3 separate regions of the Homo sapiens genome follow, and regions 1 and 2 are each reported to be linked to region 3. The links are microRNA targets in miRTarBase. Many come from high-throughput screens and were not tested one by one. Region 3 holds a microRNA gene; each other region holds the end of a gene's coding sequence.

Region 1 (4,247 bases), not on the chromosome of region 3:
GCAAAAATGATGAGGTAAGATTGTTAGGTTTTGAAGTGAAGGCGAGGGTGAAAGAAAGACACACAGAGAGGGGGCAGCTCAAACAGCAACACAGGAATACTGCAGACGCTTGTGGAAGTGGGGGACCAGCTTAATGCCAGATCCCACCACCGCTTACAGCCTGGGGTACTTACAGGTATGGGTGGGAGGGATCTGGGCAGCATGGCTTGCTGCCCAGCAGGATATTGATAAGATGTTCTTATGATCAGGTGGTTTGGCCCTTTTTCTGGTGGAATATCGTTGTGGTGTTCCTTAGAACTTTGCCAAGCAAGATATGATAGGGATGTTTCTTTAGTTGGGCCTTTGTCTGCCTTGTGGACAGGTGGTTAGGCAGGATGTTTCTCACGGCCTGAACCCCCATGGGATGTTTCACTTTGACCAAGGTCTGCAAAATAGCAAAGAACTTACAAAATGGTGCAGTTTGGACTAACAGATGACCCTACCCATGCTCCTCTTCTTCCCCATAGATCCCTACCCTGTGAGTCAACCTTGTTCTTCTCTGGATCGAACCCCTTCCTCAACCTGCATTCCTTCTCATAAAGCCCCCCTTGCTATCCAGTCTCTATCCTATTCACCCAAAATAATGTCTTTCTGGCCTCTCCCTGTTTTCTTAACAGATGCAGGAGACACCAAACAGGGACTTAGTCCTCGAACCGAGTTTGAAAAAGATGAAAACATCAGAATATTCAACAGTATTAGTGTTGTGCTACAGGAAGACTAAGAAAATACATTCAAATCAACTCGAGAATGACCAGTCCTGAGAGAACTCCATCAATCCAGTCCAAGAGGAGGAGGACGAAGGATCCTCACAGGAGGACGAAGACCTAGACTCATCTGCAGAATCTTCAAAGCAGGATGAAGACCTACAATTACCTGAAGGATCTTCACAGGAGGATGAAGACCTAGGGTTATCTGAAGGATCTTCACAAGAGGATGAAGACCTAGACTCATCTGAAGGATCTTTGATGGAGGAAGAAGACCCAGACTCATCTGAAGGATCGTCAGAGGAGGGTGAGGAAGACTAATTAAACATGGAGAAACCAAATTGGACAAATCCTCACCACCAACGGTGATGATTACAATAAAATCAAGTTTGAGAAGCTGATGGCTGCATATATCTATGCCTGTTTTCTGATGGTGGGGGAGAAGGGAAGGGAAGAGGTAGGCATTTGAGAAGGGAGGGATATGAGGTCCTGTAGGGTTGGTGGACAGACTCACAGGTTGACAGTAAGCCAGACATTGTAAATAAGGCCTGGGGGAGCACTGATTCCTAAAGAAAATTTTCTTCTTAAAATTTCCTCCCACAGGAAGTGGAGATGTGTATATGTTCATGCAACTGTACCCGGCAGCACATAGTTCTGCTGAATGTACATATCAAAGGTATTCCCATCCCTTTTCCATTTGATATTTTCCTAGGTTAGAAATATATGCTTTATAAAGAGTTAATGTTCTGTAAAACACAAAGCACAATACAGACATACACAGACACCTCTGCTCACTCTCTCTAGAGGGATACAATTAAAAACATTGGTTATAGGGCCGGGCACAGTGGCTTGCGCCTGTAATCCCAGCAGTTTGGGAGGCTGAGGTGGGTGGATCACCTCAGGTTTGTGAGGTTTTCAAAGAAAGATCTTGATCAAAAGAGGGAATGTGAAGCTGACTGTGTGAATGAACCAGCTTCTCCAGTGCCAATGAGCCTCATTTCAAAGCAGTGGAGATAACTAGAAAATTGTACTGTTACTATAAAAGAATAACAAAAGGGGGAAATTGTAAGGGTAACTAAACATAAAATTGAGATTTTCCTGTTGCCAAAAGAGCAAGAAGAGACCTTCCCCATTTCACTTTCCTTAGAGCATTTCCTTGAGAAAATTTGTATTTATAAATTCTTCCTTTGATATGTAAGCCTCTGGCCACCCTATAACCCAGGAATGTCTTGAACTTGAACTCCAGGCCTCAAGTGATCCTCCAGCCTCAGCCTCCCAAAGTGTTGGGATTACAGGTGTGAGCTACCAAACACCGCCACCAGGAATGTCTTTCTTCAGGGCCATGGAGCATCTCTTTGAAAGGTGAACGTTGAGGAAGATGATGTCTTTGTCTCCCTGTCACCAGGGGAGTTTAACTTAGGTGCCTTGCTCCAAGCCGTAAGCACCTGCTTGTCATAGAGATATGAGTTTTATTTTTCCTTCAGATAAAGGCAATTAACTAACACAGATGGGTACTCCAGTTACTCGATGAACTTAGGACTTGCCTGGGAGCATTTAGTGTTCACCCTTGGCTGCTGCTGTACAACAAGGCCAATTACCTACATATCTGGACTTTCTGATTTCTGCTACCACTTTTTATTTTTTGTTTTGTTTTTGTTTGTTTGTTTTTGAGGTGGAATCGCCCTCTGTTGCCCAGGCTGGAGTGCAATGGTGCAATCTCAGCTCATTGCAACCTCTGCCGCCCAGGGTCCAGCGATTCTCCTTCCTCAGCCTCCCGAGTAGCTGGGATTACAGGCGTGCACCATCATGCCCAGCTAATTTCTGTATTTTTAGTAGAGACGGGGTTTCACCATGCTGGCCAGGATGGTCTCGATCTCCTGACCTCATGATCCGCCTGCCTTGGCCTCCCACAGTGCTGGGATTACAGGCGTGAGCCACCACGCCTGGCCTCTGCTACCACTTTTGGATTGTATGAAACACTACACTTCAAAGTGTGGGATCTGGCTTCCTAGACAGCTGTCAAAGGGGCAGTTGATGCAATCTAGAAGTGTAGGGGAGTTCGCACCTGTGGGGTAAATTTTGACCAATAAGAAAAGGAACCAGGAGTGAGAGTCAGGTACGTAATTCCCTCTCCTCTCCTCTCCTCTCCCCATGTACCATTCCAGGCATTGTTTCTCAGTATAGTCTGTCTAGAGGTGTCCTGTATGGCCCAAAGCCTGTTTCCTTGGGAATCTGAGCTAAAGCAATGGGCATTCAAACACTCGAAGACAGTGTTAAGTGTTGTGGAGGACCCAGATCTGGGCAGAGGAAAATTATCCCAATAAGAAAATGGACAATTTGAGGATGTGGAATAGAGGGAAGGACTAGAAGAACCAGTAGTAGTATAGCTTAGGGGTACTATTTTTGGAGAAAAAGGCAGTTCTGGTGATTGTTCCAGTGAATTGCTCAGCTCTGTTATATATATATATATGTTTATATCCTTTCTTTCCATCATTCTCCCCTATGAAATCATCCATAAAGTATCCTTTTATAACTCTCTATTGCCTGTGAAGTGAATTTTCTTTTTTTCTTTATCTTTTTTATTTAGAGATAGAGTCTCTGTTGCCCGGGCTGGAGTGCAGTGGTGCGATCTCGACTCACTGCAATCTCCGCCTCCCGAGTTCAAATGATCCTCCCGCCTCAGCTGCCCTAGTAGCTGGGACTACAGGTGCGCACCACCAATGCCTTGCTAATTTTTTTTATTTTATTGTATTTTTAGTAGAGAAAGGGGTTCACCATCTTGGCCAGGCTGGTCTTGAACCCCTGACCTCAGGTGATCCACCCGCCTCAGTCTCCTAAAGTGCTGGGATTACTGGCGTGAGCCACCGCGCCCAGCCTGTCACTTTCCTTTTGGAGAATAAAACATATTGAGTCTTGTGCCAAAATGCAGGGGAAGCTGCACCCAGACAGGTAACAAAATATTATATATATATAGATAGGTTTTTTCTACATACCAATATTAACGATTTAGAAAACCAAATTGAGAAAAATTACACTTATATAGTGACAAATATACATAAAATATCTAAAACCAGATGATTGGAGCAAGATGGCAGATAGATCCCGTGCCCCACTCAACATTCCATTGAACTGGGAAGAAAATGTTTTCAAGGGTCAATTCTCAAGAGTAGAGGAAAATAAGAAAACGTGTCAGTGGTTCACCAGAAATATTGAGGCATTCCTGGGAGATAGAGTAGATGTGATCAGACTGGTAGAGAAACCCAAGGAGACAAGAGCATCACTGTAGACGAGAGATGCTGTTTGAGACAAAGACTTACTCCGTCGCCCAGGCTGGAGTGCAGTGGCGTGATCTCAGCTCACTGCACACTCTATCTCCCAGGTTCAAGGGATTCTCCTGCTTCACTCCCCACTGTAACTGGAATTCACAGAGGCCTGCCACCACGGCCAGCTGATTTTTGTATTTTTAGTAGAGACGGGGGTTTCACCCTGTTGGCCAGGCTAGTC
Region 2 (4,247 bases), not on the chromosome of region 3:
CTTGGAGTCTCGTATTCTCTTCACTATGTCACAGCCATGATATCTCAGTTATGGAAATTCTATTTAGTGGATGAACCAGGAAAATGAGAATTTGGAGGGATAACAGGCTAACTCTCAACTAAAATCAGGAAGCAAAATGTTGTCCCAAACTTTTTAGGATTTAAAAATCATCTTGCTAGCTCTTGGTGTACTCAAGGTAAAGAATTCCATCTTGGTAATTCTTGTACTTCTTACTAGAGAAAATACTTGGTAGAGCACTTTACATAGTGGATCCACACGAAGTGTTTACAAAATAGAATTATTTGCTGTATGAGTGGCAGCCTAGGTACATCAATGTGGCAGCCACATTTTCTTCATTAGAGGTTCTTTAAAGACCTTTCCCACAACATTCTGTGATTTCAAATTATCCCGTTGCTCATATCACAAATACAAGATATACAGGCCAACTCATTTCTTTATTTCTCTCATTTAAAGTACAAACAAAACCCTTATACTTTTTTGAGCAGTGAAATGTATGCTGCAAATACTAAGAAAGTATATTGGGTAACAAACTGTAACACTGTTTGGTAAACATTAAGATCTAAAGAATAATTCTGCTCCAGGCCCTGAAGATAGCCATCATTTAGGACTTCACTTATCCTAGGCAAGGTAGGCTATTACCTTGGAACTGTCCCATGGTTCGGAAGACTGCTGGTTCTCCTTCTTTTAAAGTTTTAAGCATTATTTGCAGTTTATTTGAGGCCTCCTGACTAGCTGTGATCTATGGCATTTTTAATCAGTATGTTCAACTGTAATTAGTTTGGGCATGTAGGAGTTCCTTCTTTGGGGAGCTGATTTCACTATAAACAATATTTTATTAAACATTTTTTAAATAAAGGAGTGTCCACTATAGAGGATCCTCCCTCCCTTCTTGCATTTGTCACGAAGAAAATGTACTGCTAAATCACATACGAATTTTAACAAAGTATATAACCCAAATACATCAATAAGGACTTTTGTCATGTCCCAAACAAGGGTCTCCAGCTCTATTAAGTGAAGAAAATTTTCCCAAAATTCAAAATTTTCAAACATCCTCAAACCTATTTAAAAGATCATTACACTGAACAAATTTTCCACTAGAACATGAAAGTGTTCACTGAAAAAAAGCTTTCCAAGTAGACTGTATTCATATATAGCAGCTCTCTATATACCTATATAATGATATATACGTGTGTGTATATATATCATTAAACATTTCTTGTGTCTATAGGAAAGCTACTAACTTTTTAAAAATTTCAGCATATAAATAGCTATTAAGACAATTCACAAACTCAAACTATTCAACTGCATCTCAAAACATCAAAAGAGAGACAGTTGCACAAAATCTCAATGGAAATAACTGAAAACAGCAAAGAAACCAAAAATAACCCCTAAAATTAAAAGTATACACATACACACACAATTGATAATGTAAAGCAACTTGATAATAACTGCAGGACACTCTACAAACTAATTATTAACCGTTCAATTATACTTTCATTCTAGAGTAAAAACAATAGTTTAAATCTCTTTGGTCCACACATTAGTACATTTAATGTATCCAAGTTATTTTCTTGTTAATTTTGGATTATGAATCATGCTCCATATTACTTTACCATAACTTTCTTAAATCATAAAATAAACATATGTTAAAATAAGTATTCATTCTGGAGATCTGAAACAATTTCCACATGCTATTGGTAATTCCTCTGGAAGAATACGAATGCTTTAAATTATTGACAGAATAGCCAAAGTAAAAGAAGAACACAATTCAAGTCTGGCAGAAAAGAAAAAATCAGATTGACTTGGAAAAGTTATGCCTAAATTTAATTTGTAAAAACATCAGGAATATAAAGAACACATGAAAACAATTTCAGGCCTGTACATAATAAAAATAATCAATTTTAAGATTTACTTCAAAGATCCATGCATAGTTGCTTATTATTTTTTTAAAACAAATTTCCAAGCCAGTGTTAGTAAATCTCCCAAATTGGCTTCCATACTGAGAAAAGTACTGCCTCTCCAACTTCTCATTGGTAAGTTGTGGATATACTCTGCTTCTGGATAGAGAAAAAGTGGTATGGGTAACAAAGTTCTTAAATTTGAATGTAATATAACAAAGGCCTACTTTTATAGCAAATTGGATTAAACAGCAAGGCTACCAGGTTATTTTTGGATTATCCTTAACTTCATATTCTCTGCAATGTCTCCTTTGAGTTAGCACATTATAATTGTATCTGGTGCCAAAAAAAATCTCATTAGGAGACCAGTTCAACCCTACTTCCTATACTCTTACAATTACGTATTGCCAGAACCTCTTAAAATGTTTTATATAAAGGACATTTCCACTTTTGCTATATGCCCTCACAGATTCTTCTACTAAACTTAAATCATAACTTCATATCATAAATCAAGAACTGAACAACTGAATTACTCTAATACACGCTCAGTACTGCATTGATATGCTGAGACTAATTGCCAAATTTTAAAATTATCTACTATATTCCCCAATTTTTACTTAGCAAAATTATGATGTTGCCACATGTCCAAAGTAAAATAGTTCATTACTCTTCCTATATAACTTACTTGTTACTTATTTCTACAAATGAGGTCTTTATTTCCAGAGCCTAATTTAGGCCAGTCTCTAAAAACAGTTAATACTCCAGAATGAAAGACTGTTTATGTTTTGTCAAAAATCAAGATATATGCAACACGTAATACAATCCCACTGAGATACTAGTTATAAAGATGTTTTGTCCATGAGATACAAGGCAAAAACTTTCTTTAGAAGGGTCAAAGAATGCAACATGCATTTCAGACTTTTTTCTTACAAAAATTTTTAAGAAAATCTTCAAATTACATTTTTATGACGCACAAACTACAATCAATGTGTATGACCCTTCAAGTTTCTGAATTTGTATAAACAGAATATGGATGCATGAGAGAAGCTATTAAAAGGGTGTTACTTAAGTTGGTGAAAAGTATGCACCCTATAGAGCTACTCTGAGTTCTTAAAACAGTTGAGCTAGTCTTCAGTTAAGAAGACTTATCTTCCACATCAATTAAATAACAATAATACCTAAACATATTGAAGCCCTAAATCCCAGAAACGCGCAACATTAAAAACCAAATAATTTCTCTCATATTAAACAATTCAGTATTTAGCACTCATACGGGATTTAGTGTTACCGAACAAAAATCTTAGTACATTACCTGAATTCATGTCAAATATGTTCACAGCACTCAGCTACATCTACACTTGCAAATTGTCACATGATCAATGTTAACAAAAAGAAAAGAGTTTGGCACATATATCAATACCTCAAAACGTCCCTGTAACTTAACATAACACTGTTAGGAACGATGATTTCAACACCAATGTTAACCTGATAGGCAGCTAAACAAGGTGCTTTTTCTTGTAACTTTACATAGTGTCTTAATGCACCTTGCCTGAGACAGAGGCACATAAGGTGCAGTGCGGTAGTGCAATCACTTGAACACCAGAGGGCAATCCTTCCACACAGCTCAAGGTCTTCCTTATGCTTTGACCTGCTCAGTCCACATTCTTGCACAATTTCATTTCCACTTGTTAACAATGCCGTTTTCAGGGAATCTGTACATCTGTTTCCTTATGTGAAGTAAGACATTCCCACAGAAACCTCAAAGTGTAGCGAGGATCCTTGAAAAGGAGATGATTAATGTCAGTACAGTCTGTCCAACGCCCCATACCAGCGCTTCCAAAGGGGCCATGTTCTTCCCAGCTACTCTGTAAATGCCCGCTACTGCTGCACCTAAGGAGAAACGGGAGAAAAATGAAGGGATACAGTCACTCGTTTTATAACACACTGCATGCTGCACCTTAAGAGCTCTTTTCATTTCATCAAAACATAAGTCATCATTTTTTTCTCATTTTATCCACTTTCTATGAAAAAGTTTCCCTGTGATTGGTGAAAGTTACAACTTACCATAATACACTTAGCCACTTATTTGAAAAACAGACTTTTCTATTCAACCAAAAGATATATATTTATGGTATATGCTGCATACTTGATAGCAAATATGTTCATAAACAATGAATAATTCATTATTGCAACCTCTCACCTGGGCATTCAATTAACTAGACCTCTTTAGCATTTTTGTAAACATACAGTATAACATACTGATAATTACAAGTGATAATGCAGAAAAATAACATAATTTAATGTAATTTCTAAATTATTAATAAATAT
Region 3 (4,247 bases):
GGAGATGCCTTCTTCTCACAGCATCCTGTGCAGCTTCACATCTGCTTATCACAAGAATGCAATCATTCTCTCTTTCTTGTCTGAAAGCCTTGGTTTACAAAACACACACATAAAAAAAAATACTTATTAAGCACCTACTATATGCTACCTTTGTTGAACACCCACTGTACTAAGCACTGTTTATGCATTACCTCATGATCCCTAGCCACAGTTCTGTGTGATGGGTATTATTATTATTGCCATTTGACAGGATGAGGAAGCTTAGCCTTGAAGAGGGAAGTAACAGGACACAGGTGGCAAGTGGTAGGGCTGGACATCAAACCTAACTTGTCAGATTCCAATCCTTATTATCCCACTTCTCCTGGGAACATGTGAGTTTCTCAAGGATCAGGGTTCTGTATTCCCAGCCCTGGCAAATAATCTGACACACAGTTAGAAAAAAATAAATAAGTTTCAGTGGATAAATAAATGAGGACAGAAGAAGGATCTTTAACATAAATGTCTTAAGTTCAGCTGAAGTAAATGGGGAATAACTAGGTTGGAAAAGCATAGGAAACATAGCCCAGACTCTCTGGTTAAGGATCAGGAATAACATGTATGAGTTCCCTGCCCATATCCTCTACTTGGCAGCTTTCTGAAATTGGCAAAATTACTTGGTTTCTCCTTGCCTTGGATTTCTTACTGGTGTCATGGGGTTATTTTGGACATTAATTGAGGTATTCCAGGTGACATATTTAGCAGAGCACCAGATGCACACTCAGTACCAAATAAATTCTGGCTGTTGTTGCTTGTATTAGGTTGTAGTTTCTGAAAGAGAGACATGAAATAAGAGTAGCAGCACATCAGATGGTTTTGAGAGGGAATCTGTCAGAGCACAATTAAACATGGCAACTTGTCTAAGGTGTTCAGAACATCACCAGTGGAAAGCAGGATGTTTTGAAAACTGTTTCCGAGTAATCTGACACGCTGTACTCATTAAATGTCTCTTGAATATAACAATCCATTCCAGATGATAATGTGAACAATTCACAGATAGCTACATATGTGATCAAGATTACATATTTACTCCCATCTTGAGGACCAACATACATTTCTATCCTCATTTTCCCACCGATGAGCTGTCTTTTCTCTTTGTATTTAAGGTCCAGCTGGTTTTAACTTTCAAATTCCTGCTCAACCACTATTTTAATGTTCTCTTTGGCTATCTGTTTAGTTCTAGATTCTGGGCTTTTAAAAATTTTAACATTAGCCTTCCTTGGCAGCACCTTTGCCAGATTTTTCTTATGATACATAGAGATGTAATATGTTGACAAACTAATTAAAGGAGGAGCTGGTATTCAAATCCAGATCTGATTTATCATTCTGTAGAAATAAAATTTTATCAGGTATTGTCCGAAGCTCTCTCTCTATAAAGGTGAACAAAACCAAAATGGTTCTTAAATTCCTTGAGCTTAGTATTCAGTGGTAGAGACAGACACCAACACCAAGTAAATCGATTACTACAAATTTTGCTAAATGCCATGAAGACTTCAAAGCTTTCTGATATAAACACCAACTCAACTTTGACAAAGACATTTCCATAGCAAGAGCATCAAGGTATTGAAAAACTGAACAACTTAAATCACTGTTTCTTATTCATAGAGAACTTTTATAGGCAACCACTACACTAAAGCCCAATATACATGTAACTGAGATGAGAATGATTTCTCTGATTAGATTCTTCCACTTTTATTTTTTTGTCTTAAGCACACATGGTTATGTCTAGTAAGACATAATTTGTACATGACTGGATCAAGAGGAAAACACTTCTAGCCTTCCTTTTAGTCTCCCAATTCACATGCAACATTTTACAATACTTGGCAGTGTCAAAAACTCTGGTAAAGGACATTGTGAGAAAAATTGTAGTAGCTCTACACCACAACCACAGCTGATTTAGGTCTTTTACTCTGGACTAGCTCTGTGGATCCTGTCTATCAGGCTGTCTGTCAGGATCCACAGAGCTAGTTCAGAGTAAATACCTGATATCAGGTGACGTGAATACCTGGCATCAGGTGATGTGTAAATACCTGACATCAGGTGATGTGAACTCTGATGACTGTTCCTGGATTTCATTCTACAGGATTATAAATGAACTACGTAAAGCAGCTGTTGTAAAATCTGTACTCTGCTTCTTGGAAAGTAAACAGGCCAGTAACGTGAGCCTCCATGTCCTAAGCGTGGGTTAGTATAGCTAAAATAACCTACATATTTTCTGGCTCATATATTGTGTTATCCACTGTAACTCTTGATAAAATCTCTCTACTTGGTATGAAGGATAGCTTTATTTATCCATTCATTCATTCATTCATATTTTTTATAATTCGAATCTATTCTTCTATTTTTGCCCTGAAAAGTAATAATACAATCTTTCTAGGTAGGCTACATTCTTGGCTTGTGTCAATATCAAATTTGTTTTGGACAAGATGCATCCTGAAAGGCAAAAAACAGTAACAGATAAGGCCAATGGAAAAAAATATTAAAAATCGGCAACTCTAGGTAAAGGGTATACAAATGTTCATTGTATTATTCATTCAAGTTATGTGTTGTTTTCCAATTTCTCAAACTAAAAAGTTGGTGGAAAAAAAGTTGTCCTTGTTGAACCTCATGATGAACAACACATATAGTGAAGTTCATGAAAGAAAGTTTCACAATTACAGTTTTGAGAAAGATAATGTATCTCTGAACCTAAGTAGTGATGATCTCATCCAGGAGTTAGAAATGTAAGCTTATGAAACAACTAATAATGCTAGTAAGAATACATTATCAGCATTCACATGCACTCATCGATTGTCCCTGGGGAGGCCATGGGCTGTGAAAGGCGAAAGGCCTAATCCAGGCTCTGGAGATCCTTGGGAACATAGCATACTTGTATGCAGGAGCCTTTGTTCTGCTTACAGTGGAGTAAAGTGAAAGACTTTCAGCATAGGGTCCAAGAAGCAGACTGACAGAGCAAACTCTACAGTGTGCCTGAAGGCAGCCATAGTAAGAATTCTCCCCAGCATAGAGGCCATATTAAGGTGTTTGTCATCTTCCAGTGCTCCACAGTGGATTTACTCCTTCACCAACACCTCCTTTTCTTTTTTCACTATTAGCTGTACTACACCTTTGTCACTAACAATTCATTAATTCATATATTCAACCAATGAATATTCATTCAACTTTTTTTATATTCAACTTTTTGTTATGTGTGAGAAACCACATAGGCCTTGCTTAGTAAGGTGTGTAAGACACAACCATTTCCCTGTGGTACTGGGACAGCCCTAAACAGGGAGAGCAGAGATTCTCAGCCCTGACTGCACATGAAAATCAACTAGAAATCTTTTTTTTTTTTTTTTTTTTGAGATGGAGTCTTTCTCTGTTGCCCAGGCTGGAGTGCAGTGGCACGATCTCGGCTCACTGCAAGCTGCTCCTCCTGGGTTCACACCATTTTCCTGCCTCAGCATCCCAAGTAGCTGGGACTATAGGTGCCCGCCACCACACCCGGCTAATTTTTTGTATTTTTTTTAGTAGAGACGGGGTTTCACTGTGTTAGCCAGGATGGTCTCGATCTCCTGACCTCGTGATCTGCCCGCCTCAGCCTCCGAAAGTGCTGGGATTACAGGCGTGAGCCACCGTGCCCGGCTAGAAATCTTCATAAAAATGTGGATGCTCAGGATCCTACTGCTACAGACTCTGATTTAGTAGTTCTAGGGTAGGATAATCTGTATTTTTTAAAAGATTCTTTGGTAAATTTGGTGAGTGGCTAGTGATAAGATACACTGAGGCTGGGCGCAGTGGCTTACGCTTGTAATCCCAGCACTTTGGGAGGCCAAGGCAGGCAGATCACCTGAGATCAGGAGTTCGAGACAAGCCTGGCCAACATGGTAAAACCCCATCTCTACTAAAAATACACACACAAAAAAAAGCCAGGTGTGGTGGTGGCCACCTGTAATCCCAGCTACTTGAGAGGCCGAGGCAGGAGAATTGCTTGAACACAGGAGATGGAGGTTGCAGTGAACCAAGATCACCACCACTGCACTTTAGGCTGGGTGACAGAGCCAGACTTTGTCTCGGAAAGAAAAAAAAAAAAAGATAGGTATAAGCATATTCACAACTCAGATCCTTTATTGGCACAAAGACTACTGGAGCATAATGATACCCTAAATCACTTGAACAACAGGATTTAGAATCAAACTCTTTAGAGATAGAGATGATGTTAGAGGTCACAT

Evidence for each region. Region 3 holds the annotated microRNA hsa-miR-4661-3p (CAGGAUCCACAGAGCUAGUCCA, at 1,948-1,969, opposite strand). A microRNA usually pairs through its seed, bases 2 to 8, with sites in the 3' UTR of a target mRNA and lowers its output. Matches are read on the target gene's strand: a 7mer-m8 pairs with bases 2 to 8, a 7mer-A1 pairs with bases 2 to 7 and ends in A, and an 8mer does both.
Region 1: miRTarBase lists SPANXN5 as a target of hsa-miR-4661-3p. Seed matches in the 3' UTR shown: 7mer-m8 at 840-846.
Region 2: miRTarBase lists TMEM170B as a target of hsa-miR-4661-3p. Seed matches in the 3' UTR shown: 7mer-m8 at 893-899.

What each region holds. Positions count from the first base shown.
Region 1 is chrX:52,793,041-52,797,287 of GRCh38, reverse strand. It overlaps SPANXN5 (SPANX family member N5), which reads left to right. Exons shown (of 2, transcript NM_001009616.4): 1 at 1-14; 2 at 657-1,144. The coding sequence ends at 800. Among named protein-coding and RNA genes, the nearest start is that of SPANXN5, 2.3 kb to the left of the region's middle.
Region 2 is chr6:11,574,993-11,579,239 of GRCh38, reverse strand. It overlaps TMEM170B (transmembrane protein 170B), which reads right to left. Exons shown (of 3, transcript NM_001100829.3): 3 at 1-3,809. The coding sequence ends at 3,679. Among named protein-coding and RNA genes, the nearest start is that of TMEM170B, 39 kb to the right of the region's middle.
Region 3 is chr8:91,203,253-91,207,499 of GRCh38, reverse strand. MIR4661 (microRNA 4661) reads right to left here and starts at 2,015; the gene lies at 1,941-2,015. The region is part of intron 7 of LRRC69 (leucine rich repeat containing 69); the gene reads right to left.